4 separate regions of the Homo sapiens genome follow, and regions 2, 3 and 4 are each linked to region 1. Evidence: fine-mapped expression QTL. A gene starts in region 1. Each other region holds a variant in brackets. All regions are shown on one strand. Distances are from middle to middle.

Region 1 (8,350 bases):
GACCTCTTCTTTTTAACGTCAAAAAATTCTACTGATTTCCACATCACAGCAAAGAGTTGTGTTTTTAGAATCCATAAATTGCAAAAATACCTAGTAACCAAAAATTAATATGAATTTAGCGATGCTTTTATACATACTGTGTTTTAGTCATCACAACAGTATATACACACTTAAAGTAGTTCTTATAGATGCCAGATGACTTCATTGTTCAGCTTACAAACCACGCTTAGATTCAACTCCTGTTACCAAAAGCATGAGTCCCTACCAGCAGTGAAACTATTCTACAGCATCTCTAGAGTTAGTTTCAAAGTTTTACCAAAAGATACGGAGTAATTGGGTTTCACTAATATCTGATTTTCCCTTTCAAATGAAATGCTTGATGTGGTAGCAACAAAATGATCATACTAAATCACCGGTGGACTATAACCTGGCAAAATAACTACGTCTCTATATTTTGTATAACTAGCCCATACCAGGATTCATGGCTTAGAATGAAAGCATAAATGTAGGAATTCAGTGGCTGGGATTCCTATTTCCTTTTGTCAAGAGATACTTACAAGATGACCAAAAACTACCTAATCCTCCTTGGCTTCATTTCAAAAATAGCCACTGTTAGCTCTCAAGAATAACCACCCATGAACATCCTACTAAAACGTCCACAAAATAATCTCGGTAGATGGAGAAGTTTTAAAGGGTGGGAATAGAATGCTTATCATCTTGGAGCACAGGTGCCTGTGATTTTAGATCTGTTAAACTACAGACCCCACTAAAATTCACAATAGTAAATTTCTAGACTAGAAGTGGAGTTAAAAATCCCTCTACTTTCACAGGTTTAACGTGCTAATTATCACTTAGATATTAATCTTGTTAACAGCTCTAAATTAAGGACCTGTGTTATATTTAGGAAGCTGCCTGGTGTTAAAGTTAATGAAGCAGCTTCTTTTATAGTTATATACTGGGAAACATTTTCTTTTGAAAATATGAAGCACTTATGTGCAATCCATATTCAAAAATCCAACAGCATATCTAAGTAACTCATGTAGTTTTTGATAATACAATACCCAATAGTTATTCAAAGACCCAGCCTTTATGCTTTGTCTGTAGAGCATCTCTGAAGCCTTAATAGTGCTATTCTTTTTTTCCCATCAACTAATATAGTTGTCACTACTTAGAATTCTTTAATCTGTTTGTCTTAATCATGTATTTAATATATTGTATCATTTGTCATTTTCACAGTTAACTAAATAAGACCAGTCAAATATTCTTCATCATTCTATTCAAACTTTTGACATAATGTTATTACTTTAATGCCTAATCTTTGTAAAGTGTGCAGAACAGCAGAATTGAAGTTTTGGCAAGACTTTTTTTCTTTAAAGGAATCATACAACTCCAGTTTCAATTTGTGAAGTATAATTAAAGTGAGTTGACATGCTTTAGAATTGTTCTTGTTTGGACATTCTCCCTCCTTTAACTTAGAGCCTATCTTTTTATTCTGCTTTTTCGGTCTATCATTTAAGGACAACATTCTTTTTGCTGATATTAACAAAAGAGTTATTCCTTCAGAAATAGGATCTGTAGCAAGCAGACAAGGTCCTTCATAGCCCTTCTGATGAAGTACAATTTAGTACCATTTTCCTTTCATTCCTTCCCTACTTTCTCTCAAAAGGCACACTCAGCAGAGAACAGAAAGGTACCTCTCGTTACCAATTTGTTAATGTCAGTCTTCAAACAGTAGAGTCTGTATTTACATTGTTTATATGATCGGTAATTATTTTCTACCTGTCTAACAGTGTTCCTCTTTCTTAGCCTTTCAACTCTCTAACAATCAACAACTTTGATGGAAAACAATGGGCCAGAAGATTAAGAAATATTGTAAGATCATTTCTCAAGTATTGATTTAAATATTAAGGTTGACATAAAGTGAGCTCATCGTATTATGAACCCTCAAAACAGACTATCAAAGTCCACCAACAGTAGACAGCCCTTTCCTGGACCACGTATCTCCAAGCCCTTATCACAGATTAATCTAGAATATCCAAAACCCTGAATGGTTTGTAGGTGTTCAGGGCTGCTGGATCTGTCTGTGCTGATTTATACGAGACTATCCGATGTTTTTAAAGTCAACAATGACACCTACAATTTTTTCAGAAGTATCTGTGTATATTGTTACAGTGTCAGAAGAATTTTCTTCATAATTTTTTTCACTTAAATTTGCATGAAAAAGAGTTTCTAACCCTCAACTCTCAGCAGGTAGATGAAGAAAACACACACACACAAATACACACAACACACACACACACACACACACACTTCCCAGGGATAGAAAATAAAACAATTCCAGGGAATCTACCAGATTAGATCAACTACCCTCAGAAAACAGAGAACTGGCCACATTACTTTTCAAAAGAAGACTCCTATTATTAATGGCACTAAGGTTTAAAAACAGCAGTCTGTCAAAGTGAAGCCTCAAGACAGAAACTTTATAAACAGCTTTTAACCCACAAAGACACGAGCTTTCACTCACCACTGAGTAAGACTTCTTGATTTGGTTAGTAACACCCTAAGTGGCTTTCAGGAAGCCTTCACCAACTGCTGAGTAGACAGTCAAGAGCACAAAAAGGCTTCCCTGGAGATTACCTCCTCCTAGTTACTCGAGAAACTCAGATTGCCCTGACACTGCCAGACAAATAACTGTATCCCTTTGACATCCAAAGATTACCTGTCAAAAGGAAACTCCAAACACACACGTTCACACGCACGCGCATGTATACACACACACACAAACACACACACACCCCACCACAGTCTGGTTGGCATGAGCCCTACCTGCATGGGTTACCATTTCCATGATAACAGAGCACTCACAGGTGTACCGCTGAGAAACACCAGGCAGACCGTCATTTAAAGAGCTCCAAGGAGTCTGAGGGTGGGAAACTGCCGGCTTTCAGCAGACCACCCTGGCAATGAACAGAGCGCCAAGGAACCCTGGTATCTTCCGTAGAATATGCCACGGTCCCATAATCTTAGTGGAACTTCACCTTGACTGTACAGTATTGAATCGCAATACCTCTTATGGGAAGCTCTGAGCTCAGACATTCCAAAAGAAAAAAGTACCACCTTCGCCAACGAAAGTTTTTTTCTTGTCTTTAAAAAGGGATAGAGTGAGAGAGCTTAACGCCCCCTCCTCAACATTCCCTCGTCCCCTGCAAAGTTTTCCAACTTCAAAATACGCGGTCACCAAAGAGCGGGGTTCATTTGCTTATTCAAATAACTTTAATACTATGGGACATGTAAGACAGCAAAGGGGACAGGTGCAGATGGGCGATGCAGTAGAAAATATGCCTGTCCCCCCCTCCCTGCCCCTCACTCTCAAGCCCCGTTCCCAGTTTCCTCTCCACAAACAGCAGGATATCACGTCCGAGCCCAGCTTGCCCCTAGCCACTCGCAGGGACAGGGGAAATGTAAACTGTTGCTACAGCCTCCTGACACTCCACCGATAAATCAGAGGAAGCTGCAAAACTTCTTGGCTTGCTCAGCTATCCTCCACTGGCACTGAACGCCTATGCACAGATTTCGCAGTCAGCGCTACGGGAAAGGAAACCCTCAGTCAACCTGTTTGCAAAGCCTGCAGAACAACTCCCGGCCTTTCGATTTTGGGCGCCGAGGCTCTCCGCGCAGGACGGGAAACCCCCGGTTTCCTTCATCAGTATCCCTCAAACCAAGCTGGAGGTGAAGGGAACAGAGCTCCTGCTGCCCGGGTCCCAAGGTTCGGTCCCGTTGCATGAGGTCGGTGCTCAGGTCGCCGCGTGGGGCGTCCCCGCCCGCCTAGAGGGTCTCCGCACACTGCGCCCCGGGCAGCCCACGCTTCCCGCAGCCCCAAGCCAGAGGCGTCCGAGAAGATCCGCTTCCAAGTTCCCGCGTCTGGCTGGGAGAAGGGGCGACGATGGCTGTCCGGCGAGGAAAGAGCAAAGTCTGCGCCGGCAGCGCGCCCCCTTCCCCGGCGCTGCCACCCCGCGCCCCAGTCGGCCGGCCAGGGGGCCCGGCATCCCCGACTCGGGGCTCCGCGTGCTTGCACTCACCCGTCTCGCCAGAGCCGCCGCCGTAACCTCTGGGAGCCGCTGAGCCCCGAGCTTCCCGAGCGCAAGAAAGATGGTGGTGTGTGTCGGAAGACCACCCATTCCAGCGTCTGGCAACCCGGCGGCGACTCTGGCTCCTCAGCACTGAAGGAGGAGGAGGAGGAAGAGAAGGAGGAGGAGGAAGAGAAGGAGGAGGAGGAGGAGGAGGAAGGAACGGCGCAGTCAGACGCCATCTGCTGTACACCTCTGCGCAGCCATTGGCTGCCTGGTGCGTCCGAGAGCCGCGGGGCGCGGGGCCGCGGGGAGCCACCTTGCGCCTCGCCTACCCCGGCAGCTGTTCCCCACCGCCCCCTCTTTCTCCCCCCTCTCCTCCGCCTCCTACCGCCTCTGCCGCGCACCCGCACGACCCTCGGCTCAGCCTGCTCCCCAAGGCGAGCGACCGCGGGCGCGCTGGCCTGGACCTCAGTTCCTCTGCTCCCCGCAACTGTTTGCCGCAACTTTGAAGCTTCGGGGTGCCGGTGCGGGCTGGGTAAGGGGACTCCCCAGCTGAGCTCAGCCCGGAGTACCCAAGCCACTGAGCCCAGGAGAGGGTCGAGCGCTTTGCGCCTCGGAGGTCCATGAAGTGATGGGGGAAGAGAGCAAGAAAGAGTGGGGGTGCCCTAGGCCCCTGTTGATAACGCGCCCCAACACGCACACATGCGCGACACTCCGACACACAGTAAAACACACACACCGAGCCATCCCGCAAGGTCCGGATGGTCTGGCGTTCCTCTGCAGTCCCCGGGCACGAGAGGGCTTCGGTGTTACTAGGAGAAAAGACAAAGAAAATCCTATCTGGGGAGTACCCCTAGCAGCATACGTGGGGGAGAGAGAAAGGGAAACATTGTGGTGACTCCGGGAAACGCCGGGAGCTGGGTGCATACCTGCCTGGACATCCCCCCTGTTGCGGGGCTCCCAGCGACTGTCAGCCCACGCCCACCAGAGCCTGGGAAAACCCCTAGCTCTGGGGCCTCTGTTTAAAGGATTTGCAGTCCCGGGGCGCGGGGACCGGAGTTGCGGGAAGGAGCGCCTTAGGCTCCTGGGTAGCTCATGCCGGAAGCAGCAAAGGAGGTGGAGAGTCCGAGTCAGCCCAGGTGAGGCAGGAGTGCAGACAGCGGAGAGCACGTGGGCAGTCGAGGAGCAGAGTCACAGCTCAGAAAGTCGTTTGCTTACTCTCTGACACTTGTTCCAAACCCTTCTGGTTTTTGACACCTTTGATCTAGGGAACTTCTTAAGCTTGTTCAGAGAGATGAAGTTGCTTCAAAAGGGAGAAGGGGCGGGGGGAAGCATGAGGACTACCTATTGCCAATTACAGGATATTTTGCCTGTCAAATCTCTTTAAATGTGTGAGCCCAGCGACAGCAGGGATTGTATCTTTTCTATTTTATCCAATGCCTGGCACACCATGGGTGCTTAAAATGAAGCAAAATAATAATGATAAAATTAAAGCTTGATGTCATAGAGCAAATTAGATTCAAGAGATAAATAGAGAAGCTAGGATCTGTCACAGATAAAAAGAAATCAAAAGAATGTAAGTGCCATTGTAAAGAAAGATGTGAATATATTGGTAAGGGGCTTCAACTCAGCTTGCTGTGGGATGATGGGTTCTGAAAGCAGGGAAGCCTTACTTAATATTTTAAACAGCAATCGCTATTCTCCCACTACAGTCACATTCTGGGTTATGCTTTTTTTTTTTCCTGACATCACTGTCTTAAAAATAAATCAGCTGCCAACCAGATCCCAGAATATTTTCTTAAATCCAAGACCATGATTTATTACTCTCAAGAGATAAAAGGCCAATCCTGTGACCCAGGGGAGAGAGAAACTGGTCCATTATGTTTTATTGTAATCTCAATATATACAGATCAATAGCCAATGAGTCTCATTTAAGTAACTTCAGGAACAACAGCCAAAGAAAAACATTTCTGTTTTCTTGAACTATTATACCCAGGCTTCCCAGGTTTCAGTTTTCCCAGAATCAATGCTGCATTTTCAGGCCACACCCCCTGCACACACACCCCCATATGGGAGAAAGACTTGTGTTTGCAATCTGTCTGGAAAAAAAGATATCAAGGATGACTTCTGAGTATGGCATGTATGGACATCTTAGTAGTTATTTGTCCCCCTCCCTCACCAGAGACAATGATACGTATATTTTCCTTTAGGCTGGCAATTTGCTTTCAACGTGCATTCTGATTTAATATGCCAGCCCATTCTCATTAACCCTTTGCTCTACGTCAGCAATCACTTACGATACCCAAGAATACTTTGATTCTTAAGACACAACTTTTCTCCTCTGAGGCATTGTTTGTGTTTGGTCTCCTGGTTTTTGAATCTAGGATATGAGATTATAGTCATATGGTAATTCTGTTGGGCTTCTTAAAATAAAAAAGGAGAATGAAATCTAAATTATTTTTGAAAAATAAAGAACCATGAATGTTAAACTTGTTACATTTGATTCCTTTAGAGAACAATCACTTTTCATTAAGGCACTGCTGACAACATATATTTCAGTATAGTCAAAGAGTATAAGATGTCTGAACTTTATCTGTGTGATTACATACAAATTTTGTAGACGGAGAATGCAAGCACAAGACTCATTCTAACTTTCTCTTTCCATTTCTAGCTCAAATTCCCAATTTATATTTTAAATGTATATTTTACTCATAATATGAGTTTCTTGCCAACATAGTTAGCTTTGGTTCTTAATAAAAACACTGCTCTCAAAATCTAGATTAGGTTAGAAACATTAAAAGGATAACCTAGGCAGGGAAAGGAATATTAGTAATGAAGACCGTAAGAGCAGGAACAGAAATTTTTAAAAATAAGTGAACAAAGAAAGGATTTGGAAGAAGGTAGGCTTGATTAAAAAAAAACAAAGGTGGCATCATTATGTGTAAGAAATAGTTGAATGTGCCAGGGTTGGAAAATAAGCTTGAGATTAGAAATTCCCATAATCCTGCACACACAGATGCCAAAGGCCCCAATCACCACCAGACTTCCAATGAGAATGAACAAAACAAAAATACAATGGCAGAAGAGAGGGGATAGAAGGAGAAAGTCTGTTGAGATTAGGTCTCCATTGGGAAGACCTAATGAGTCTTCCCATTAAGGAATCACGGAGAAAAGTAACCCTATGCTAGCCAAGTACAGGCAGAGTGTAAATTTACATTTTTGTTGTTGTCGTGTGTGTTTGCCACTGCTTTTTCTGAACATGATGTTCTCCATATAGTCTAACAAGCTTGGATGGGAAAGTGCTATGGAAATGAAATAAACAATCAGTGGCATTAAACAAGGAAGAGCTAAAGAAGGCACATAGATAAAGAAGCCCAATCTAAAACACAAGTGATAAATGCAAACATAAGCCAGTATCTTGGACTTGCCACCCAGGGAGTTGCTGCCCAGGTCTACAATGGCCCATCCACTGAAGCAGCGAATTGAGTCAAATATTCAGTCACTCTGGGGGACAAAATAGGAGGAAAGGGGGAAGAGAAAAAGAACCATGATTGTCTCATTTACACAATTCATTCAGGCCAGTTCCAGGTTGGAAGAGATTCTGTGGCAAATCTGAACATTTTTTCTGCCAAAAAAGAACATTTAATCCTGGCATATAAATGTAACTTTTGAGCTTGGTCCAGTAATTTGATTTTGATGTGTCAACATCTTAAAATACAATGTAAAGATAATGTATTGAAAAGTAGTGTAGTGGAACTCCACTGGCTTCTGGCCCAGTTCAGTCCCTCTGAGGCACCAATGCTTTCCCAGCAGACGCTCAACACTCACAAACGAAGTCCTGAACCATCAGCTTCAGTCATTCACTCAGCAACATATTTGATTAGTGTCTACTATGTGCCTGGCACTGCACTAGGTATTGGTTATTCAGTGATACAGAGTCCCTGCCCTCATGGCATTTATAGTCTAATGCAGTGACAATAAACAGGTATGCAAATGATCCTAAATATATAATATGAAAGAAAAGGAAAAGAGTCCTGCAATAAAAAAGGAATGCAATGGAGCAGGGGTAGAAAGGAAGGTCAGAACCAGGCAAGAGCTCTCAGAGGAAATGACATTTAGGCTGAGACCCAATCATGAATGAGAGGTAACATTTATGAAGATTTTTCTAGATATTAGGCAACAGGCTAAATGTTATATATATATATATATAATTTAATCCTCATAACTACCCCAAGATGTGGACACTATTTTCAACTCCATTTTACAGTGGAGGCATACAG
Region 2 (8,350 bases), 20 kb after region 1:
AGGCTAGTACAGAGTGAAATGTTGATAATATTTGCTAACATTTATTGATTTCCAGGTGCTCACATGCATATAGTTGTAAGCACTTCATGGATATTTAATCATTTAATCCTCCCAGCAAACCTATGAATATCCAAAGTAGATATTATTATTCCCATTTTATGTAGAAGGAAATTGAGGCACAGAAAAGCAAATTGCTCAAGGCTACACATCTAGTAAGTTGGTGAGCTATAATTTGAATCCAGGTATTCCAATCCAGAGCCCTTAGTAATAACCTTCATGCCAGCGGTTCTCAACCAGGAGTGGTTTTACCCCCCAAAAGACATTTAGTAATGTCTGAACACAGTTTTGATTGTCACAACTAGGAGAGGAGAATACTACTGGCATTTAGTGAGTAGAAGCCAGGATATTGCTAAACACACTATAATGCATAGAACAGCCCCATACATCAAAGAATTCCAGTGCAGAGGTTCAAAACCTCTGCTCTATATTTTACTGCCTCTGGGATCAGTTATACCCTAGCTACAAAAAATGTGGTATGTATACCAGCAGCATTGCATCACCTAGGAGCTTCTCAGAGAGGCCCACCCAGACCTACCCAATTAGAATCTGCATTTTAATAAGATCCCTAGATGATTCATCTGCACATTAAAGTTAGATAGGCAGTGAGTTAGACTATTAATTCTACCATCTTGTGATATGTCTGCAATAAGACAAATCTCATACATCAGTCTAGTCCCCATGCACAGGCACAGAGACCGAATGTCAGGAAGTTGTTTTAGTGGGGTACGAATTAGGGAGGGAGGGGGAAGGATCCATCCATGATGTAAAAATAGGGACTGGAGTTTTCTTCAGCGGACAGTCACTTGAAGTAGCAGATACAGTCAGAAGGCAATCACTACCTGGGTCTAAGAAACAGGGACAAAAAAAACCACTCAAATTCTAACTCTGTCCTCAGGACTAAGAGTAGAAGACATGGGGAAGGCCAGAGGCCAGGTAAGTACAGACATGGAATAGAGGGGAAAGGAACTAACACAACTGGGCTGTGAGAGCAGGGCTGGAGGTGGTGAGAGAGGGTAATTGTCGCAAACATAGAAATCAGCCAGAACAGCAAAGCTCCTTGGATCTGAGTGCCAGCTGTGTGCAGCAGCCACTGGCCTAGTTTAAAGGCACAGATACAGAGAAGGTCCGCCCACCCTATGAGATGTGCATGTATTTCCCCTAAATGAAACTTCTAGGGTGCCATTTTAACAGTCAATAAGGCAGTAAAAGCACCACCAAAATTACAAAACTCCAACAATAGCTTTTAAGGAAAACAGGCCTGTCCTTTTAAGAAGCACACATTCAGCAGCTTATGAAGAAGGGATGAAAGAACAGTTCCTGCTCTCAACTGGCCCTTGGAGTTGACCACAAAGTGCTTTAGAACCAACCCTCTGATGCATAAGCCATCACACAATTTTGCGTTTGCAGATTTAAGACAATACTTTCATCAAAACATGCCTCCTCCCAGACAGGCTTTCAAAGCAATAAGCAAAATAACAATCTTTTGTGAGCTTTACAAAATGTTAACTGGGAAACCCTACTGTTTTTAATTGTGCCTGAATAAATGCAGACCAGGATCTCCGGGTACAAATAAAGTGGTTTATCTCTCCTCTCTGCCTCCAAATCAGTTTTGCACTGATAGGTGGCCATTCCCAAAGGCAAAGGTGACATGCGGCAAGATTGAGGCAAATCATGGAGCCCAACCACTGTGAAAACCATTTCACAGTAAACTGATAACTTAAGAATACTATTGTTGTGGCTATCCAGATAATTTTCCTTTCAATCATTCTCTATTTCTAAATCACCACCCTGTCACATTAAAATCGTAGGATTGGGGAGCTGAATTGGATCTTAGCGTCCTCGAACATGGGAAGAGGAGGTACAAGAGAATCAGCAAAGGAGCCTTTTAAAAGTGCATATTGCTTGGGCCCCATCCTGAGCCCACCCCACTCCAGGAATCTTAATTCAGCAGGTATTTGGTGCATCCAAGGAATCTGTGCTTTTAATAAACCCCTTGGATTATTCTGATGTTTGGCAGGTTTGGGGAATACTGTCAGGTTCAACTCTCTCATTTTGCAGGTGACGAAACTGAGAACCAGGTAGGTAATTCGCAGGACTGCCAAAGCTAGCATCCTGACCTCCACGCTTAATTTATTTTGATTACTCAATCCTATCATTTTTTCACTTGATCAACAATACCATATAATGTGTAATAGTAGAATATACTATTCCAGAGTACAAGCCACCAAATGCATAATAATCCAAAATTCAGAGCTAGTATCTCCTCTATTTTCTCCACTCCCCATTGCTGTTCATTCTATCCCATGTAAAAATGCATTAGTCTCCCTGATGTTCCTAACCACCAGCCTCCTGGCCTTCACGGGGGAGGATGGAAAGCTTCTCAAGAAACATGTCAGCAATGACATTCCATAATTATCTTTTTTTCCTTTTAACCTTTTATAGCTTTGTTGTTCTTGACCTCTCAAGTAGTCTCCAGTTACATCCCCAAAAGAAAAATGACATCATTATAACTCAGGGACATGGATGTGTTGCCTCAGCAGGGCTATTGGCTGGTCAACCAATGTCAACTGGTGTAATGGCCTTTTTACCCACATATGTACACGCTTTTTAAGAGGAAGTTGATTTTAAGAACATATCTACTCTTTGCTTTGGTTTCCCTTATTGAATTCTTGATTTTCTAAGAACTCATGTGACTAATTTATTCAGAAAACACATAGCATTAAGAAAGAAAAAATGTAACCATTAAGATAGTGGTAAAGTTTTGTTTGGGTTATTTTGAGGGATAAAAGATACCAAAAAATCTCAAAAAGGTTAATTTATCTTTAGGAAAAGACCTGTTCCCATTCATGAAAATATATCCAAATCCTGGTTGAGTTATTGTAACTTGCTATTCTGCTCTGAGGTACAAATGTACTTTTACTTTGTCTATTTCTTTTTAGGCATTAAGACAAAAAATAAGTATATAAGAGCAGGTAATCCTAACAGCCATGGCTTTCTGGCATGGTGTGCCTGCTGTTTAATCCAGGAAATATATACTCTGTTTTTGTGTCTTAATAACCACATTACTGTCCTTAGTATTATCAAGTTAGCAAATGTGTTTCCATAAAAGATCCCAAATCATATTATATTTTGTCTTCTCCATCTATCAAAATCGTATCAGCTTTAGGGCTCACACAGTATCGTGCCACCTCTGAGAAACACTTCAGAATGATCCAGATTCCACTCTTCCTACACATCTAGCATCACATGCGGTCTATGTCTCAACTCCTTAAAGTGTGGTCCTCATACCAGAAGCAGCAGCATCACCTGAAAGCATTTAGAAATGCAGAATCTCAGCACCACTCCAGACTACTGTATTAGAATTTACATTTTAGTAAGATTCCCAAGGGATTTGTATGCACGTTAAAGCCTGAGAAGCACTGCTGTATACCGTATGACACTTCATTAGAGTTGGCTTCAAACCTTTTGTCTCCTCCAATTCAATTCTTACACCTTACAAGGAGCAACTTTTGTGTTCTCTCAGCATTTGGTATTATGGGAAGTCTAGAGTAGAGTTTAAGAGGGTAATTGTGTAAGAAACTGTTGGTTATCTGTCCACCAACTATTTCTCTTTATATCTTGTTAATAGTAATTGCATAGCTTTGAATCAGGAGGTATGTCCAGATGCCTACCCCATCTCCAGCCCCATCTAACCCAGGGGACAAGTCAGGACTGGTCAGTGCTAATCATGGTGATGCCACTTGTCTTCCCAGTGTGTCTGGGGAGCAGGGACATAAGCATGGGACACAAGCCCAACCAAGTTACCAATGAGGGAGACAGGTGGCTCCTGGGAAGGACTTCTGAACAATTACAAGAGATATTAGGCTACAAAACCTCATTTTCTGACTATGGACATTTAGTAATGAAGATACAACCCCTAAAACTAAACAGACCATCTTGTGACTTGTGAAGGGAGTTAGCCCAGGAAGCATATTCAGAACTTTCGAGTGGAAAGTTGGAAGGACCTGGACCTCCTTGGGCGTGATTGTGCCATTGAAATTGCCGAACTTGTGCCTGCTTTACCTCCAGACTTCTTGCTATGTGACATGTAAATCACATTATTAAGCTATTTGAGTTGGATTTTCATCACTTAAAGCAGGAAGTCTATTAACTAATAAAACTGTTGACTGAAATATCAGCCAATAATTGATGGTGTGCATTCACACTTTACTTTTACCATCTCATGCAATTATTATGTCACTTCTATGAGGAAGCCACTGTTGTCCCCATTTTACTGATGTAGAAACTATAGTTCAGAGAGATCGAGTAACATATCCAAGATTTAGTACTTAAAGCAAGGTCTCCCCAGTGTGAAAGCACAGGCATCTTTTTTCATTCTCCTTCTATGATTTGACTGGTTAATAGCCAAAATAATTTGCTTACACTGTTTCATTGAATCTGATAAGAGTGGTCTTTAGGAGGATTATGCTGTAGCTCAGAATAGGGAGGAGAGCCCTTTTATAGGTTTTCTTGAGAGTGGTTTATTATTTGCTTTACTGATGACACTGCAAGAACAGATGCAAGAGTTATTGAAAATGGGAATAGTCTCATCCTGCAAAGCTCTATTCCCAAAGAATCCTGCAGCATGCCAAGCAGGCTTGAGATGAATAAAATAACGAAGCTCCTGTTTGCAGAACTATTCATTGTTAAGAGATGTTGTGTTATAAAATTAATGAATCTTTCTAAGAGAGTTGATAACAGTGAACCAGTAGCCAATTCCTGACACGTACACATGGATCTGAAGGGAGATGAAACCTCTAAAAGTAGTGCCAGAGGAAAACATAATACTGTACTTCTTTTAATCTACAAGTTCACTTTGAAAGTCTGTAGCTCAGCTTTAAAATTTGCCCAATTTAAAACAGCATCTACATTCATTTGTTCAGATGTTTTGTCTGAAAGAGGAGATAAAAAATATTAAAACACGCGGAAGTTTCCAAAAACACTACTTAAATATTTTATTTGCCATCCCCACGTGATGGACTGGTAGAGACATAGCCCTTGAAATAAGGCCAACAGTTCGCTCAGGCTGGACTCCAAAATTATAGGAGATAAAAGGTTTTTTTGACCAATCTTTATCTCCCAAGGGAGTGTAATTCTTATTCTTAGAAATGTCATTTCCCAGG[T/C]GTTTACAGATATGTAACAAGCAGCAATGCTTCCGAAATAAAAGGAGAACATGAGCTTAGACACAATTAGCAACATTAAAGGCAAGAAGCTGGCTTTCCACCAAAATAGGGCCATGTTCTCACACAAACTAAATATCTCCAGACATTGGTCTTGCACTCTCCATGTGTGGGCTATGCTTGGAAGGTCATCCATGTAGACAGAATGCTTAACCTAGCTGCTAATTAGGTCATTTAGTCAATACAGTGGAAAATTCAGTCCCAGTGAATATGTAATGCATGTAAACAGTCTGTCTTTTTTCATTTTGACCTTAAAAATCTCTCAAATCTATTGTTGGAAGTGACCAATTATTTCAGTTGAAAGAATTGAACTCATAATTCTGTGCAGACACAGGCACTGCTGATTAACTCCGGAAATGGCATTAATTCACTCAGCATTTTATCCAAAATATTCCAGTTTATCATCTTAAAACAAGGACTCTGACTCATTATTGTGAGAATCAGAAACTGTTTCTCATTCTCAAGCCAATAGAACAACAACAAAAGACTTATTTCAGTATTTCATCTCCTGCTTTAATTTCTGAGTTCTGCACTGACATTCTAGTAATTAGGAGGAAGACAAAAGATGTCTGAGAATAGACAAAACCTAACTGCTAAAGTTAAACATGTTCTACCAGTTTGCCATTAACACAATCACAGAATTTAAATTTTTTCTCTTCCTAATTAAGAGTTAATTTAAACCCAACTTTTTTGATAGCTCAATCCTTCATATTAGTCAAAGAAAACCTATGATATGATTGATGAATTTTATATATTTTTGGAAAAGAATCTCCAAAATATCAAGTAATTTTATCATGGAAGATTTAAAAAACTATAGGCATTTAGAGAAAATTAGAATCCTGAACCTACAATCAGTTTTAAACAGAAAAGCAACTTAATAATTAATAAACTGAAAAAATACTGATAGACATTTTGATTAAAATGAATATATACAATTTTATTTTTAAATTAGGCATAAACAAATGCCATTAAAGTGAGACATGTTATATTTAACACCCACATACATATATCTTCATTAAGACTAAAGTAATGGAAAAGGTGAGTGAGGGAAAGGAAGGATGAAGAGAAGTGGGTTAAAGTATACAAACAGGAGGAATACATTCAGTGTCTGATAGCAGAGTGGGATAGCTATAGTTAACAAAAATATATTGTACTCAGATGATGGACACTTTAAATATCCTACCATGATCACTATACACTATATACACGTAACAAAATTTCACACGTACTCCATAAAGTTGTACTAATAAAAATTAATTAAGTAGTTAATTCCTTAATTAATGATATATAAAACATGAAATAATTCAAGAATTAGATATCTAAATATCTGAAATCCCAGTTCCCTTTTGCTTTGTAGAGTTTATATCATTTAAAAAAAAACCTTAAATTATGACATGACCTTGGAAAAAGAGATGAAAATTTTCACTCACTATTTTCAGCCAATGAGCTCTTAAATTCTCACTAAATAATAAAAGCCTGTCACTTTAAAATACTTCACTAAGTAATAAAGGACCATAAATTTTTCATTATTTAGATTACATATACTGCCTGCTCAGTAGTGTGTACATATGTTCCTCTACTTAGGATGAGGTTACATCCCAATGAACCCATCAGAAGCTGAAAATATTTTAAGTTGAAAACATTGCAAGTCAAGTGCATTTAATACTCCTAACCTGACAAACATCATAGCTTAGCCCAGCGTACATGCTCAGAACATTTACATTAGCCTACAGTTGGGCAAAATCATCTAATGCAAGGCCTATTTTACAATCAAGTGTTAAATATCTCATGTAATTTACTGAATACTGTACTGAAAGTGAAAAGCAGAATGTCTCTCCAACAGTGCCCAGCATCACAGGAGAATATTGTACCACATATAACTAGCCCAGAAAAAGACCAAGATTCAAAAGCAGACATAGTTTCTACCAACTGTGTCTCACTTTTGCACAATGGTAAAGTCAAAAAATCATTAAGCGAGCCATCATATGAGTCAGGGACGGTCTATAATTACACATTTGAATATATATTTTTTTAATGTTCAGCATACTTATTAAAGTGAATTTCACTCTTTTTAGAAGATGTTTAAAACAGACCTGAATGACAGTTGAGTCTCAAATTTTTCCTCATTGTGAATGTTGCTTTCAATGCCCAAAGCTTCTGCCAGCACACTCACAGTATTTATAGAAATATAGACGTTCTTTATAGAGGCTTACCAGGAAACCTGTAAAAGCTAATATTACACTGGCTATTCTTACAGGTGAATAAGGGTTTTCTTCTGGAGAGGACAAAAAGTTGTTATAAATGTGAATTCTAATAGCTATGGGGGTAGGAGAATAGAAGGCATCTCTCTCTCTCTCTAAAATCATTTTCCACCAGTTCAGAACACTTAAACAATCTTTTGGTCCAAAAAAATTGTAAGGAGTGCTCTATTCTGAACACAATTGCAATTCAAGACATCTATATTTCATTTTCCTTCTCTAGTTAAAGATTTGCTGACCAATCTAAATCCAAAACGTTCTGTTCTTGGAGTTCTGCTTTAAGAGAATGGTTTACACAATATTCGAGAGTAGGAAGAGACAGCAAAAATGATCTACTCCTACAATTTTTATTACATTTCAAGGTTGGGAACCTTCTGTGTTCTTTTTATTTCCCTAAACCCCAACAGCTGATGTGATATGAGAACAGAGTTCAAAGGATGTGCAGCAGAAGCAATTAAAACAGGCCTACTATCACCAGCAGATCCTTGAATTCTCACTTGAAATTTAGTTATCAATGCATTAGATATTTTACATGTGTTTGTCATCTTCCCAAGTTTGTGAGCAATGTGACTGCCTGGGTTTGTTTTTCTTGGATGTCCTCCAGCCTATTTGACACCTCTGTGCAACACTGCATATTCTCTTGACCCCACCCCTTGCATTTGGCTGCAACTTAACAATGCCAACGCCATGCCCCAAACTCAAGCTAAAGCCCCAGTCACGTGCCTCTTTCTTCTTGCCCATCACTGCCTGGGAGTCGCTGAATAAATACTTCCCTTTTAAGACAATTTTGAGACATATTTCATAAGAGTCTCC
Region 3 (8,350 bases), 120 kb before region 1:
CTTTAAAACACATCTGTAAATTATTTGCCACTCCTCCCATCAAGAGATGATCTGGAAGCTCTCTCCTTGGAGACTTAATTGTAACTAACAGAAGGCAGAAAAAGTGACCATGCATGGCCCTCAGGCTAGTTAAGAACAAGCCAAGCAGTTCTTCTCTGTTTCTCTGTGGAAGCTTACTCTGAGAGCCTTCAGACACCTATGTAAGGATCCCGGCTGCCCTGAAGCTTCCATATGGCGAGACCACACAGAGAGAAAGGGATACCTGAAGAATTTCAGCTGTTCCAACCCCAGCTAGTTAAGTCCTCCCAGCCCAGGTGCCAGCTATGTGAGTGATGAAGCCCTCCAGATGACCCCAGCCCCTGAACCAGCTGATTACAATGGCACAAGAGAACGAACCCAAGTGAGAACACTTAGCAGGGCCTAATGACCCACTGATGTGTGAACAAAATTGGTGTGTTACTGTTTTAAATCACTATTTTGGGGTGAGCTATTACACAGCAATAGAGAATTGCAACATGGATGGAACTGCTGTGTCACTTGTTTGAAATCTGTTGTTCTGGACTTCAGCTCTTACCTCTTTTCATCAACTAGAACATGGAAATGCCTGTGACCCAGCTTGGATGGGCAGAGAATGATGATGTCTTTCCCGAATATGAAAGAAAGGTGCCTGGCTGAATGGACACAGGGAGCGGAGCCTCCAGTCTGGACCACTAACTACATGATTTCACATAAGAGAGGTCTGAGCTTCTATCTTTTTAAACCACTGTATTTGGGAGCATCTTTGTTACAGCTGCTTAGCCTCCACCTTAAAGAATAGACTTCCAGAGAAAAAACTCTGGGTATTGATAAATATAGATTATTTGAGGGACCCATACTCTAATAAAAAAGCCAGCTCTCCACACAAAAATATTTTGACAGTGAAGCCCAACAGCTGAGTCATGTACATGGAATGTTGAATCAGTTTTAGTGCCTCGCTTTTAATAATGTGAAACACTAAAGAGATAGCCAATAATTAATAGACATTAGAAGAAAGCTCACTATGTCAGGGGCCATGATCAAACACATAAATGAAGGAAACAGGAAAAAATGACTCAGAGGAAGCAGAGAATGAAAGGAAAAAGATTAAACTGTCCTTAATATCCTCTGAATGAAAAGTCACTACATCTATGAAACAAGATGAAATTTAAAAAAATCATAGAACAAGTAAAAGACCTTACAAATTAAAAAAAGGGATTGTAGAAATAAAAAAAGTTCAAAATAATAGTTAAAAGATGAAGTAGAAAAAAAATTTAGACATTAAAATAAATATACAAACAAAACACAAATATGGAAATTATCTAAAAATTGAAGATCAGTAAGAGAGGTCAAACCTTTGTCTAAGGAGTTTCAGAAGGAATTCACACAACAGAGAAGAGGAAATTGCATAAAAAAAAAATCTCAGAAGTGTAGGACATGGCCAGGCACGGTAGCTCACGCCTATAATCCCAGCACTTTGGGAGGCTGAGGCAGGTGGATCACCTGAGGTCAGGAGTTCGAGACCAGCCTGGCCAACATTGTGAAACCCTGTCTCTACTGAAAATACAAAAACTTAGCCTGGCATGTTGGTGGATGCCTGTAATCCCAGCTACTCAGGAGGCTGAGGCGGAAGAATCGCTTGAACCCAGGAGGTGGAGGTTGCAGTGAGCCGAGATCACACCATTGCACTCCAGCCTGGGCGACAGAGTGAGACTCCGTCTTAAAAAAAAAAAAAAAAGAAGAAGAAGAAGAAGAAGAAGAAAGAAGAAGAAGAAAGGAGAAGAAAGGAGAAGAAAGGAGAAGAAAGGAGAAGAAAGGAGAAGAAGAAGAAGAAGAAGAAGAAGAAGAAGAAGAAGAAGAAGAAGAAGAAGAGGAAGAGGAAGAGGAAGAGGAAGAGGAAGAGGAAGAAGAAGAAGAAGAAGAAGAAGAAGAAGAAGAAGAAGAAGAAGAAGAAGAAGAAGAAGAAGAAGAAGAAGGAGTAGGACATGGACATGAATGAGCAATGAGTACACCAATCGAAATATCCTACAAACATCTAGCACCATAAAGAAAACAGGCTTACCTCAAAGCATATAATCACGAAATTTCAGACTTCATGGATAAAAAAAGATGCCAGAGAAAGAATAACAAGCAAACAGGTAGCAATGTGCAAAAAGTCGGGATCAGAATGGCGTCAAATTTCTCAGTAATGGCACTGGGGACTATAATACAATAGGGCAAGACTTTCAAAATTCTGAAGGAAAAAATGCCTTTTAACCTTGAATGTCACACCCAAGCTATCAATCAAGTATATGACAAGCACAAAGACCCTTTCAGACATCAACGGATTTGAAAAATTACTTCCAGTACACCCTATTTTAGCAGTACTAGAGGATGCGTTTAGCAGTTCTGGAAAACACGACAATAAAGGCAAAGAAGAGAAACAGAACAGGAAACAAGGGATTCAAGATGATCGAGAGCAAAAGGATGTTCCACAGATGATGACTATGCAGGCTGTGCAGGGGGACAGGACTGTGGGAAAATCTCCCAAAGAAAAAAATATAATAGAGCACTTGGAACTGCGCTTGAATCTTTGAATAAATTAATGATGGGCATGTGACATATCAGATGGAGCCTTGGGGAAAAGCAGCAGTAGGTTCAAAGAAAACCAAGCAAAACAATAAAGAAGGAAATTTTTCATTTCCATGTAAAAGAAAAAGCTGAACAAGAAAGGATGCAGGTGCACAGCACACTGCTTGGCTCAGCAGCGGACACTACAAAGAGTATGGGCACTGTTTGTTGATTTAAATATTTTGATAGAACTATTCTGAATAACTGTAGTAAGGAGGAGAGGAGTAGATCTAGGAGACATAAATCCTTAACTAACATAACAGAGAGTCAATAGGAACTATCTAATATCTATCAACTAAGAAGTATCAATCATGAGCATATTACCTAGAAATATGAAGGTGAATATCAGAATAAACAGCAAAAAGAGCTGAAACTGTCTCTTTATGTAAATGAACTGGAAGGTGAGATATAACTATAATATCTTGTTATAAGATTTAGAATAATATTTAAATCTTTAACTATGTGAGCCTGTTTTTTAAAGATTGAGTTCAACCTCTTTTCCAGAGATGATCAGAAATGGTACTGGAATAAAGTGACATGGAAATACATTTTCACATTTACTGATTTATAAGTTTGACTTTAATTTATAGTCATTTTATATCCTCTCCTCAATATATACTACAAGCTCTAGAATAAGATGGGTCATATTTTCTCTTTCATCTCTTCTCAACTCCCCTAAATACATGTACACACACACAAGCACACACACACACACACACACACACCCCAAAAGACAGTGTCCCTTATTTTATTTAATGTGCTGGGGATATTTTTCATATTTTATTCTTATTATATAGGTTATGTATATTCTTGACACTTGGAGTATATTGGTGAATAAAACCAGCAAAATGCCCTGTCCTCAGGGAGCCTATATTTTAATACTACTTAGAAAAAATATAGCAGAGTAATTTATTTTATGCAATTTAGGTAAGATGGATGTTTTTCTGACCTATTGGAAACCTTGGAAAATTAGTGACTGTGGTCTATAAAAAAATTAGAATTTTTAGTGGTGAACTCCAGGCCATATGTCTATACTTTTGGATATTGCTGATTTAACACTCATGCCTCTTAGATAAACCAATATCCATGGAAGTAATTAAAATGATGTCAACATAAGTAAAATTTCCAGAAAAAAATTTCATGAACTTCTAGCACATATTTTAAAAAATAGCTCTCTCCTAAGAACATTTTATTTTCTCTAAAATTCCTAACCTTTAATATATAAATAGGTAATATACATAATGCAATTTTTTCCTTAAAGTACATTCAATGCTGAAAACACTATTATTTAAGCTATAACTAAATATTAATATATGTAAGATACTTTATTCCTTATGCAATGCAATTTTCATAGTCTCTTTTTTCCAAAAATATTAATTCCAATTTATATACTTAGTTCTTAGAAACAGGTCATTATCCTCACCCTTTTTATTCATTGAGCATGAGCTACTGAAATTAAAACTTTCCTAGAGTTTGGCATATATAAAGTTTTAGACCTAAAAAAGCCAGTGAAATAATTTTGACCATTTATTAATAAAGTGCACATATCTGTCAAATAATCCCCTCTTTTTTGTATGTCTAAGAGAAGTATACAGAAATTGTATAACATAAAAGCACAAGTAAATATTTTAAACCTGAAATTATTATACAACAATGATAGAAATAGTAGCTAACAGTTATTGAATAGCCACTATATATTAGGTATTTCAAAGTGTCTTACTTAATTCTCAAAGAGTCCTGTAAAGTGTTTATTATCAATATCCATTTTCAGATGGATAAATATGGCTCAGAGAGGTTAAACAACTTTTTCCCCTTAGACAACCAGGATTTGAACATTTGTTTACCTGTATTAGTATTAGTCTGTATTAGTGTTAGTATTATACTTGTATTAGTATGTTTTCATTTCTCAAAGGAATACCCAAGACTAGGTAATTTATAAAGAAAATGTTTAATTTGGCTCATGGTTCTACAGACTGTACAGGAAGCACAGTGCTAGCATCTGCTTCTGGTGAGACCTCAGGAAGCTTACAATCAGAGAGGAAGGCAAAGGGAGAGCCAGTGTGTCACATGGCAAGAGGGAGCAAGATGGGGGGTAGGTGCCATTCTCTTTTAAACAACCAGATCTCTCAGGAACTAATAAAGCAAGAACTCACTCACTACTGCCAGGATGGCACCAAGCCATTCTTCAGGGATCCCCCCTCATGATCCAAACACCTGCCACCTGACCCCACCTCCATCATTGGGGATTACATTGTAATGTGAGACTTAGATGGAACAAACATCCAAACTATATCAAGAGTAATCTCTTAGGATGACTGAAGGCTATTTTAAAAGCCTGTCACACACACACACACACACACACACACACA[A/CACAA]CAAATATGGAGTTTTCTTCTATTTCAGAACGTATTATTCAAAACATAATTTGTTTTCCAGACTTTTTATAAGCTCACTTGCAAAATATAGCTTGGGGTGATGAAAATGTTCTGAAATTAGATAGAGGTGATGATTCCACCACACTGTGATGTACTAATATCACTGAATTGTATACTTTGAAGTGGTTAAAATGGTAAAGTTTATGTTGTGTATATTTTGCCACAACAATTTTCTTTAACATCGTTTCAGTCCTAAAAGGAAATATATTAGAATTTTATCCTCTACCTATGCCAGATCACAAATTTCAAGCTAATCTCTTCATTTCTAGGACTACATATTTAAATCCTACCTCTTTGGTAGTAGCTCTCAAATTTATATCTCCAGCAGAAACCTCTCTCCTGAATTCAGACCCCATAACTTCCTAGTCGACACCTCCACAAGAATTTCTAACAGAATCAAAAGTGTAGCATGCCCAATTCTGAGTGCTTAATATTCCCTGTATACCAGCTCCTTCTCAGCCCATATTAAATGACAGCAACTCCACTCTTCCAGTTGTTCAGGGCAAAGTCAGTATCACCCATCCCACATCAATAAATCCTGATGGCTTTATCTTAACTCAGGGTTTCTCAACCTGGGCACTGTTGAGATTCTTTGGGCCTGATAATTCTTTATTGTAGAAGACTGCTCTGTGCATTTTAGAATGTTTATCAGCATCCCTGGATTTTACTCAACACACATCAGTAGCACCCCCAGTTTTGACAACCAGAAATGTCTCCAGGCATTGCCAAATGTCCCCAGCACGGCAAAATCACCCTTGGTTGATAACTGTGGCCTTAAATATAATATAGCCAAGATTCAACTCCTTCTCCGCACCTCCACTGCCATGGCCTTGGTTCAAGCTATCACCATGGCTCTTCCCTTTAATTCTGCAGTAGCCTCCTACCTCATCTCCTTGCCCTGCTCTTCTCAGCCAGCCACCCACAAGGATCCTCTTCAAATCTTATTGAAAAGAAAGTCAACAAGAAAGTCAGCTTATGTCACCACCCTCTCAAAACCCTCCCATGTCTTTCTATCTCACATAGAGTAAAAGACAAAATCTTATTCTGACCTATGAGGACATACCCCATGTGGACCCCGTTACCCGTCTCACCTGAGCTCCCATCACCCTCCCCATGTTCACTCTGCTCCTGCATGCTGGCCTCCCCACATGTCCTCAAGTATGCCTCCCACACTCCTGCCTAAGGTCCTTTGTCCTTCTTGTTCCCACCATCTGGGATGTTCTTCTTCACCTTGATATATCTACAGCTGGCTCCCTCACTTCCCTCAGGTCTTTACTCAGATTCACTTCCTCAGGCAGCTCATGGACAACCTCCTTAAGCTTTTAGTCTCCCTGCTCCCACTGCATATCCCTCCTCCTGGCCTCATTTTTCCTTCTTACCACTCGCCCTCATCTAGCATACTCTATTTAACTACTGATCATGTTTATTGCCCTCTTTATGAGGACCGAGGATTTGCCTATTTTATTCTCAATCAATTTATCTCATGTACTTGTAACAATGCTTGACACACAGTAAGGACTCAATAAGTATTACTAGAAATAAGTGAACCTCTTAGAACCAAAACTGAGGAATTTTTTAAGAGAGCACAATTTACTGTGGGATCAGAGACCATAATCTGTTCATCTCCACAAAGCAGGCAGGCATGAATAGTTTTATATTGAAACTTAAAACCGCAAACAACATTGTCCCTTATCTGATACTGTTGCTGACGTGATCCTTCTTTCTTGACACAGCTAACAGAGTGTCTGACACCAATATAGATTATAGGATCTCATCACAATAATGATAGGCATTTAACAGCCTTGACAGATCAATGACCTTGCAGCCTACAACTCAGCAGACTCTCCCTCAGTATGGAAATCCTAAAAAACATAATACACTCACTTATTATTCATCAATCCATTGTTTTTCCAAAGCCAGGACTCACTTAGAAATGCCTGTAATTTGGATGAGGTTGACTAACATCGGACCTACCGATTTGGGGTGTGGGGGTGGGGAACAATAGACACCAGCAAAAGAGTAAAGTGGTTGACACAGCAATCAAAACCCAGAGAATGGTTTCTAGGTTTCTACAATAAAGTACAGTTATCTGGGTCTCCATGGAAATCTGTTCAAATTCCAAATTACACTGGACCTGAGTTCTTGGATTTGATAACATACCCTAAAAATACAGCTAATTTCAACTGCAATACAGTGTTAAAAATCAAAATGAAATACACTAAACTCATCCGTAAATAGGTAACAGATTCTAAGATGTTGATGTTGTCTTCAAAGGTTATAAACTAGAATTTTTCTAGGGATATAACTCCTTAAATCAATTTATTATTGCTTACCTTTAAAATAATACTGCATTCATGTCAGCATTATTTATAATAGCAAAAAAACTAGAAACCACTGAAATGCCAAGCAATAGAGGAAGAGAAGATAAAGCAACAGGAAAACTAGATAAATTTATTAAATAAAAATGCTAAAGAATACTATGCAGTCATTAAAAGATGAGGTTGGCCTATGTGCATTAATATGTAATATTCATCAATATATCATTATATGATCAAAGATAGTTGCAGAAAGCAGTGCAGAGTATGATTCCACTTACATGAAATATGTGTGTATACATACATGCACATATGGAAGAATTAAATATTTTCAGGTGCACCATTCTCCATCCTGCTTCCTGCTCAAGATGTTTACCTGAATGGATATATCCATGGGCTCCCCTGCCTTGTGGTTTTTGGTTGAATTCATCCAATGGGAGGCCTGGCAGATATGAAAGCTGGAGGAAAGTGAGGTGGAGCCCTTCATTCCCCTGGCCTCCTTCCTATTTTGCTGCAGGTTGGCTGTATCCCTTTAAAAGCCACAGCATTTGTCAAGCACCTCTCCAGATTCTGGGAACCACTCTTTCTCCTGGCCCCTACATACCCAGAAGTTGTAGAGGCTCCCAACTGATACAGTTCAGGGTCACTGCACAATCCCTTGTTCCTGTCCTTACACACTGCTCACACTTGCCTACTTTTGTAAATGTCCTTCTATGAAACTCTTCTCAACTGCCGACTTCGCATGTGCTGTTTCTTTTTTAACAGAACCTAATTAATAACTATATGTGTATCTTCTGTGTGATTCATACACATAAACATGCATAAATGTGTACTTACATGTACAAGGAAATTTTCTGAAGGATACAAAAGAGATTGGAAAGGGATACATTGGAGCTTTTGTTCTTAATTTTGTACCTTTTAGATTTCTTTCACTTTTAAAATGTCAGTCATACATAAGTAATCTGCTTTGAAAGCAAAACC
Region 4 (8,350 bases), 29 kb before region 1:
ACCCATCATAATCGCTCCCTTCAAAATCCAATCTATGATGCCTAAAGCAATCTGTAACTCTATAATCATGCAAAGAAACCAAAGAACTGAACACAAAGTTTTCAAGGAATTGTTCCCAAGTGGCTAGGAACCAGTCAACCCTAGTCTATCATTAAAGTAAAGGCAGGCATATCCTAATGTATAAAATAGGGGTTGCTAACATGCAAGATTTGAGGTATCCAGACTCTGAACCCTGTTATTCTAATGAGAGTGGAAAAATAATCAAACTGAAAGAATCAGGTTTGAATAAAAGGTATAATTTTAGAGCTCAGCATAGTGTGGAAACCAACAGGCATCCTTGATTGTAAGGGCCCAAGAAATGCTCATCCAAGTAGGAAATGGTCATAAGAGAGAGCATGGGAAAGAAAAAATAAGTCTACTGGAATGCATAATTTTGCTAGATACTTGTCTAGAATTATAGTAGTGAGAAAGTGACTTGTCTCATATATAAATCACCTCCAAATAGAAGTCAGACATAACAAACAGCAGGACAGAAAATTCACCAGGCCACTTAGTACAGGTTTGCAACAAATCTCATATACAAGTTTTGATGTTAAATAACTGTAAGTATTTGCATATGGTAGAGAGTACTTGGCAATGTCATTTTCCTTCTAAGGTACTAATGCTCTGAAACAAGCATCACTTGGTACCAGGCTACATGCATTGTTTGAATCATAAGACTGAAGGAAAAAGAATAAAAAGAAAACCATGACTTGTCCCCCAGTGGTTCAGAAAAATGCAAACGCCAACACTCAATAAAAATGATTAAAATGTGCATGAAATTGTACTGCTTTCCATTTCACCAATCTCAAAAAGACCATGAACAACATTATGTATAATCAATGGCCTACCCATCTGCAACGCATGAACAAGCTCGTTTTAACTAAGCCCTACTCTATGGTCTTTCTGTGAAGTTCCATCTGCACTAGTAAGACTTCACTAGCCAGACATCTTCTTTGAGTTTATTCACTCAGATGGAGTTGCCTATGGAAAGACTTACGCCTTCTCCAATGGTTTTTAAGTCCATTCATTCAAAACATGGAAGGGTTATTTAATTTGTGTGGTTTAGTGACTCATGGCCTTCAGAGAGTGAGAGAAAGTGTTTATTTACATCTTTCCCTTGACTTGAGGGAAGAAGGGGATGATGGTTATCTAAACCAACCAGCAGAAACTTGAATAATTATGATAATTTCTCACCCACTCTCAATAACTTGTTCCAGCATTTGAAGGTCTGTGATATACAGGAGTGTCTCTCTATTGTCCTTGAAAAGTCCCCAAGTGAACAAAATTTGGTTTCTATAAAAAAAGTTCCAGACATTTCACTTATTCCTAATTATTATTTCTTTTCATGACAAAAACAAATGAGTCTTCAGTTTTTTTAGGTTGTGTGTGTGTGTGTGTGTGTGTGTGTGTGTGATCAAATATGATATCACTATCTTGGCCAGTAAAATTGGTAGTTATACCCTCCCAAGCTCTTCCAAACCTTATTTATGGCTTCTTCATATATGTCCCAGATATAGAAGCAGAGAAAGTTATGTTTATAATTTTAAATTACTATTAAAAAACACAAGTCTTTAAAATGGAAGCTTTTTAAGGAGAAAGATAAATTCATGACTTCAGCCTTCACAGAAATCATACTGTAACAGGCTTATAACTTCATAATGGGTCTTTTTCCAAACCTAAACAAATATTGACTTTAGAGGAACTCAAAACTCCCAGAATTGATAAGAAGCACAAAGGTTAAAATACTGGGGAATATTTCAGTTTTATAATTTAGAACTTAATCTCTGAAAATCTTGAATTAGATTTTATCACAACTGAATGACTCTCTACTGTCACCTACAGGTAGCACCCAACACTCATAATCCCCTCTGAAAAGGTTTTAAGTGGGGCCTTGGTAGAGCTAGTCTAGTTTTGAAAGAAAACTCCTCAGACCTGTGTGAATTAGATGGCTGCAGAGGCTACTGTTAAAATTCCACGGTCGCCAGCAAGTTTCCATGCGAGGTCAAAATTTACAAACCATCCCACGAAGAAATTACCAGATCATAGGAAAACAAGTGAAAGTGTCCTCAAAGACCAGTGGATGCCATTTCCCTGCTCAGGCCAGTGTCCCTGGCAATCAGCCTGCCATCCTCTATGCCAGTTTCTTTAACTTTTCTCCCTCATAAATAATATTTCCTGTCTTGTGTTTTTAGGATAGTTGTAGAGGTCATGGAAACCTGTAGAGGTCCTACGGAAACTACTTTTAAAAAGGGATACATTTCAAAATTCATACCTAAAAAAAAAAAATCAAAAAGCAGTAGGAGCAATAAAGTTTACATGAACTAACATTTCAGAGAGGACAGAACACTTTTTAGGTGAGATGAGGGTAAATGAGAGTAAGATATGATTATGTGTGTATGTAATATGCAAATGAGGCTGATAACCAAAGGGGAAAAAATAAAAGCAGACTCACATATGATCCAAGTATTAGAGTTAACATCCAAGGACTTAAAAAATGTATATGATAAAACTAATTCAAGATAAACTATAATAAGTATGCATGCTGAAATCTCTCCAGTAACCACTAAAATCATAAAATAATGCATAACTAAAAAGATTAGAAGAGAAAAATAGAATAATAAAATACTCATTTAATTCTCAAAAAGGCAAGAGAGAGGGGTTGGAGTGAGAGTAAGTAAAAAATGCAACAAATAGAAAATAAAGGCAAGATGGTAGACCTGAACTCATCTGTGCCATTAATTGTATTACATATAAATGGATGAATAGTCAAATTAAAAGACAAAAATTGTCAGAATAATAAAAATGACAATACCTAACTATTTGCTAGTGTAATAGGCAGGATAACGGCCCTCACAAAGATGTCCATGTCGTCATTCTCAAGACCTGTGGATATGATACCTCACACAGCAAAACGGACTTTGCAGATGTGATTAAGCTAAGGATCTTAAAACAGAAAGATTATTCTGGATTATCCAGATGGGCCCAACATAATCACAGGAGTCCTTCTGAGTCAAACAGGAATGCAAGAGAGTCAGCATCAGGTGGATGCAACGTAAGGAAGCCTCGAACAGCCCCTTTTAAGATGGAAGCAGCCATGAGCCAAGGAATGTGGAGAGCCTCTAGAAGATGAAAGGCAAGAACATGCATTCTCCCCTTGACACTCCAAAAGAAATACAGCCCTGCTGACACCTCGGTTTTAGCACACTGAGAGCCATTTTGGACTCCTAACCTCCAGAACTGTAAGAAAATTCATTTATGCTGTTGTTAAGTCAACGAGCTATGACAGTTTGTCGCATCAGCAATAGGAAATTAATACAGTTGGCTGTAAGAGAAATATCTTAAATATAAGTATATAGATAAATTAACGGTAGAGGATGGTAAAGGTATATCAAGCAGATGTTAACCACAAGAAAGCAGGTATGGCTATAGTAATGCTAGACAAAGTAGACTCTTGGACCAGAAGTTTTACTACACATAAATAGGAATATTTTATAAGTGTACAAGTGTCAATTTAACTGAAAGACATGGATATCCTAATTCTTTTTTAATCTGAGGGAAAAAAATAGAGAACTAGACAAATCCACTATCATCATTGGAGATTTTAACAACTCCTTCTCTCAAGAACTGAAAGAATGGCAGACAAAAATACTTAAGGATGTAGAAGATGTGAAGAACACAATTAGCTAAACTGTCCTAATCAAATATGTAT[A/G]AAACGATACTCAACAACTGCAGAATCCACATTCCTCTCAAGGGCATATAAAACATTTCCAAAATAAAGCATGCATTTGGTCATAAAGCAAAACAATGAATCTCAAGGGATTGAATCATACAGATTATGCACTCTGCCCCCAGCGGAATTGATTTAGAAATAAAAAGCAGAAAGATAACTAGAAAAATCCACCAACTTTTTGAAAATTGAGTAATATACCTCTAAATAAGAAAATAGGAAAAAAAATGAAATTACAAAATGTTTGAAGTGAATGAAGATAAAAATATAATATATTAAAACTTATGGAATGCAACTAAGGCAATGCCTAATGGGAATTTTGGCTTTACATGTATATATTAGAAAAGTATAAAGGTAAAAGATCAATTATCTAAGCTTCTGCCTAGAGGAAAAATAAAAAAAATTTGAAATTTAAGAAAACATAAAAAGGAAATAAGAAAGGTAAGATAAAAATTAATGACACAGAAAGCAGATATACAGAATTCAATATAGTCAGACTTTCTTTGAAAAGATTTGCAAAATTTTTGTCTAGTCTCACATAGCAAAGCTGAACAAGAAAAAAAAAACAAAGCACACATATCAGGAATTAATGAGGGGCATCACCACACGGAAACAGATAATGAGAGAATATTATGAACAAATTTATAGCAATAAATCTGTCAAACTAGATGAAAGGGATACATTCACAAAAAAAACACAAATTACCAAAATGTATGAAAAACAATGAAAATTTGTATCTATAATTTAAAACCTTTCCACAAAAGCCCAGAAGGCTTTACAAATGAATGCCTCCCAACATTTAAGGAAGAAACAACACCAAGCTTAAACATACTCCCTTATGGAATAAAAAAAAAAGTAAAAATACTTTCCAATTTATGTTATGAGGCTAGGATAATCCTGACACTGAAACCTAAGAAGGATATTACAAGAAAATAAATTACACATCATTATTCCTCATAAACAAAGATACAAAAATTCTAACCAAAATATTAGTAAATGAAATGCAGCAATATATAAAGAGATGACACAACATGATCAAGAGGTATTTATTCCAGTGATGCAAGATAGGTTTAACAACCAAAAGTCAATCAACATGGCATAAGTAAGACAAAATCTGTGAGTTTTGGTGTATCAAAATTAAGTAACTTACTCTTCAAAGATGCCATTAAACAAAGCAAAAGATAACCCCACACACTGGGAAAAATATTTATGAACTACGTATATGATAAAGGACTTCCAACCCAATTTTTAGAATGGGCAAAAGTTGTGAATAAAGACTTTACAACAGGAGATACACCAATGGAAAATAAGCCATGAAAATATGCTCAACTTCATTAGTCATGTAGGCAATGCAAATTAAAACCAAGATGAGATACCTTACATAAACACAAGAATGGCTAAAATCAAAATGATGGACATTACCAAGTATTGGCAAGGTTGTAAGGAAACTGGAAACCCTATTCATTACTGGTAAGAATGCAAAATGCTACTGCTATTTTGGTAAAGAATTCAGCAGTTTCTTAAAAGTTAAACTTATATTAAAACACAGCAATTCCACTCATATATTATTTACTTAAAGAAAAAGAAAATATATGCCCACACAGAAAGACGTGTAGCCAAATGTTTATAGCAGCATTATTCATAGCAGCCAAAAACAGAAACAATTCAAATCACTTTCAAATGGTGAAATAATCAAACTGTGACATATCAAGACAAAGGAATACTACTCAGCAATACCAAGGAATTAACTACTGATAAATGCAATAACATGGATGAATTTTGAAAACATCCTGGTAAGAGAAAGAAGTCTGACACAAAACATTGTATTTGTATGATTCCATTTCTATAAAATTTTCAGGATAGGCAGTAGGAGATAGGAATACAGAGACAGGAAAAAGATCAATGGTTATTTGGGTTTGAAATGGGGATTTATAATAACAGAGGCTGATTAATGGGGAAAATAATCCCAGAGGAACTTTGGTTTAATAACCTTTATTTTTTAGAGCAGTTTTAGGTTCACAGTAGAATTAATACAGAGTGCTCACATCTCTCCCTGTCTCCCCATCAGCACAGCCTCCCCAGCATTCCACCCACAGTGGTACATTTGTCACAATCTATAAACTTGCATTGGCACGAGACCATCACCCAGAAGCCCATCGTTTACACCAGGGTTCACACTTGGAGTTATACATTTTATGAGTTTTGACAAATGTACGATGGCAGGTATCCACCATTATTGTTTCATACACAATAGTCACACTGCCCTAAGAATATTCTGTGCCCCATCTATTGATCTCTCTCTCCCTCCCCCAGAACTCCTGGCAACCACTGATCTTTTCACTGTTTCCATAGTTGTGCCTTTTCTAGGGTATCATATAGTTGGAATCATTCATTATGTTGCCTTTTCAGATTGGCCCCTTTCACTTACAATTTGCACTTAAGTTTCCTCACAGAGGAAATTTTAGGGGGTGATGGAAGTCTTCTAACCCTTGGATTGAATCCAGGAATTTCAATCCTAGATTGTGACATGCAAAAATGCACAACATCATTAGCCACCAGGAAAGTACAAATTAAAAGCACAATGAGATGCCACTTCATACCCAGTAGGATAAAAAAGACAGATAATAACAAAGGTTAGCAAGGAGGTGGAGAAATTGAAACCCTCATACACTGCTGGTCGGATTGTAAAATCATGCTTTGGAAAACAAGCTGATAATTCTTCAAAAGGTTAAACATAGAGTCACTATATGATCCAGAATTCCAATCCTAGGTATATACCCAAGAGAAATGAAAACATGTCCACACAAACACTACATAAATGTTCGTAGCAGCATTATTCATAACAGCCAAAAGAGCAGAAACATATAAATGTTCACCAACTGACAAATAAAACGTGGTGTATCCATACAATGGAATATTAGTAGACAATAAAAAGAAAGAAATACTGGTACATATTCATGAACACAGATGTACCTTGAAAACATGCCAAGTGAAATGAGTCAGTCACAGAAGATCATGCACTGTATAATTCTATTTATATTAAATGTCCAGAATTGGAAAATCTATAGGATCTATAGGAACAGAAAGTAGATTAGGGTTGCCTCGGATGGGGGGCGGGGGAGGGAGTGGAGTTGAGAGGAAAGGGAGAGTGATTGTGAATGGGCATGGGGTTTCCTTTTGGATGATGAAAATAGCTTAAAATTTATTGTAGTGATGGCTGCACCACTTCATATATATACTAAACACCATTGTATTGTACGTTTTAAATGGGTAAACTCTTTGGTATGCGAATTACATCTCAATAAAGTTGTAATTTTTTTTAAAAACCCTGTTTTTTTGATGTCATTAAAATAAAATTACCGGGTTGTGGAGATGGTTGCATAACTATTCCTTGCCAGGTTTCCTTGCCCAAGAGCACTGACTACTGGTATTAAAAAGTGTAGTTTTGTATTTTTGGAGGGGAGAAAACCTAGAAGTTGCTATATCTTTCTATTTTATCCTATTCATTTATTTCTGTAGGATCCTTAATTATTCCCTCTTTCTTCTTTCTTTCCAATTATCACCAACTCTCCAATGGAAGCTCCCCATGTCAAGTCACCCTTCTCCACCAGATGCAATGTCTTCTTGAGACAGCCATGTCATGTCCCACAAACATCCCAGTTATTTCCTTCCAGTGCCCCAGTAGCTGGCACACTGGTCTACAAAGTCTTAGACCTCCTCCTAAGGCCTCCAATGTCAGTGGTACTTTCCCTCTATTGAGTGAATATTTTCTGTTTCCATCAACTCCCGCTGTTTCCCCTCTCCTCTTTTCTCAGTTTCCTCTGCTACACTTGGGTGTTTCTCTATTTAGAGGTAATACACAGTTTGTAGCGTCCTTGGTCTCTAGGTTATGTTGTGATTTTATTTGCTCTTTTTGTTGATCTGTATTTTTTCTCTGGAAAACCTGGATACATTTGGATTAGACATCCTAAGTACCATTTTTACTACCCCCAATATGCTAACTATCATGGCAGAGATAAGTATAAATTACAGTCTTTGAATCTCCAAAAACTTTCATCTTTTTATGGAGAAAATATTTTAACACAGACAACAGGAAAATAAGATACAAGGCAGTATATAATTGAAAGCTCTATTACCTACAGAAATTGTAAATGTTGTAGAAATTTGCAATAAAAGTGGAGATCACTGTGACTTAAACTATTGATAAAACATTCATAAAGAAGGCAGGATTTTACTTCAACTTTGATGAACAAATGTGATTTTTTATAGAATTGAAATCTAGGTTTTTAATAATATCTAGTTCAGTAGAAGTGTCAGGGCACTATTTGAATATTTTAAGATATTAAATAAGGTGGTTTTTTTCTTCTATTTTCCACTCTTTTCTCTATTAACTCAGTGGGGTTTATTACCTGTGGTGAAACATAATTCATCAAAAGTGAGGACTGGTGAAGGCGAATCAAGTTTCAAAACCTGTTCTCTAAGGAAACCCAAGGCAAGTAGAATGTATAATAAACACACACACAAACACACACACACACACACACACAAACACACACACAAACCAGGAAAGATTCCCAAGCA

The links. PIP is the estimated chance that this variant, and not a neighbour inherited with it, causes the effect.
Region 2: its variant is fine-mapped to the expression of THSD7B in lung (TOPMed, PIP above 0.99).
Region 3: its variant is fine-mapped to the expression of THSD7B in subcutaneous fat (FUSION, PIP 0.95).
Region 4: its variant is fine-mapped to the expression of THSD7B in left ventricle (GTEx, PIP above 0.99).

What each region holds. Positions count from the first base shown.
Region 1 is chr2:136,761,417-136,769,766 of GRCh38, reverse strand. THSD7B (thrombospondin type 1 domain containing 7B) reads right to left here and starts at 4,222. Exons shown (of 28, transcript NM_001316349.2): 1 at 4,080-4,222. RefSeq lists an enhancer at 3,739-4,240.
Region 2 is chr2:136,741,100-136,749,449 of GRCh38, reverse strand. No RefSeq gene overlaps it. Among named protein-coding and RNA genes, the nearest start is that of THSD7B, 20 kb to the left of the region's middle. The variant T/C (reference allele first, on the strand shown) is at 5,223.
Region 3 is chr2:136,883,945-136,892,294 of GRCh38, reverse strand. All of the region lies in intron 2 of THSD7B (thrombospondin type 1 domain containing 7B), which reads right to left. Among named protein-coding and RNA genes, the nearest start is that of THSD7B, 120 kb to the right of the region's middle. The variant A/CACAA (reference allele first, on the strand shown) is at 4,995.
Region 4 is chr2:136,790,086-136,798,435 of GRCh38, reverse strand. All of the region lies in intron 1 of THSD7B (thrombospondin type 1 domain containing 7B), which reads right to left. Among named protein-coding and RNA genes, the nearest start is that of THSD7B, 29 kb to the right of the region's middle. The variant A/G (reference allele first, on the strand shown) is at 3,752.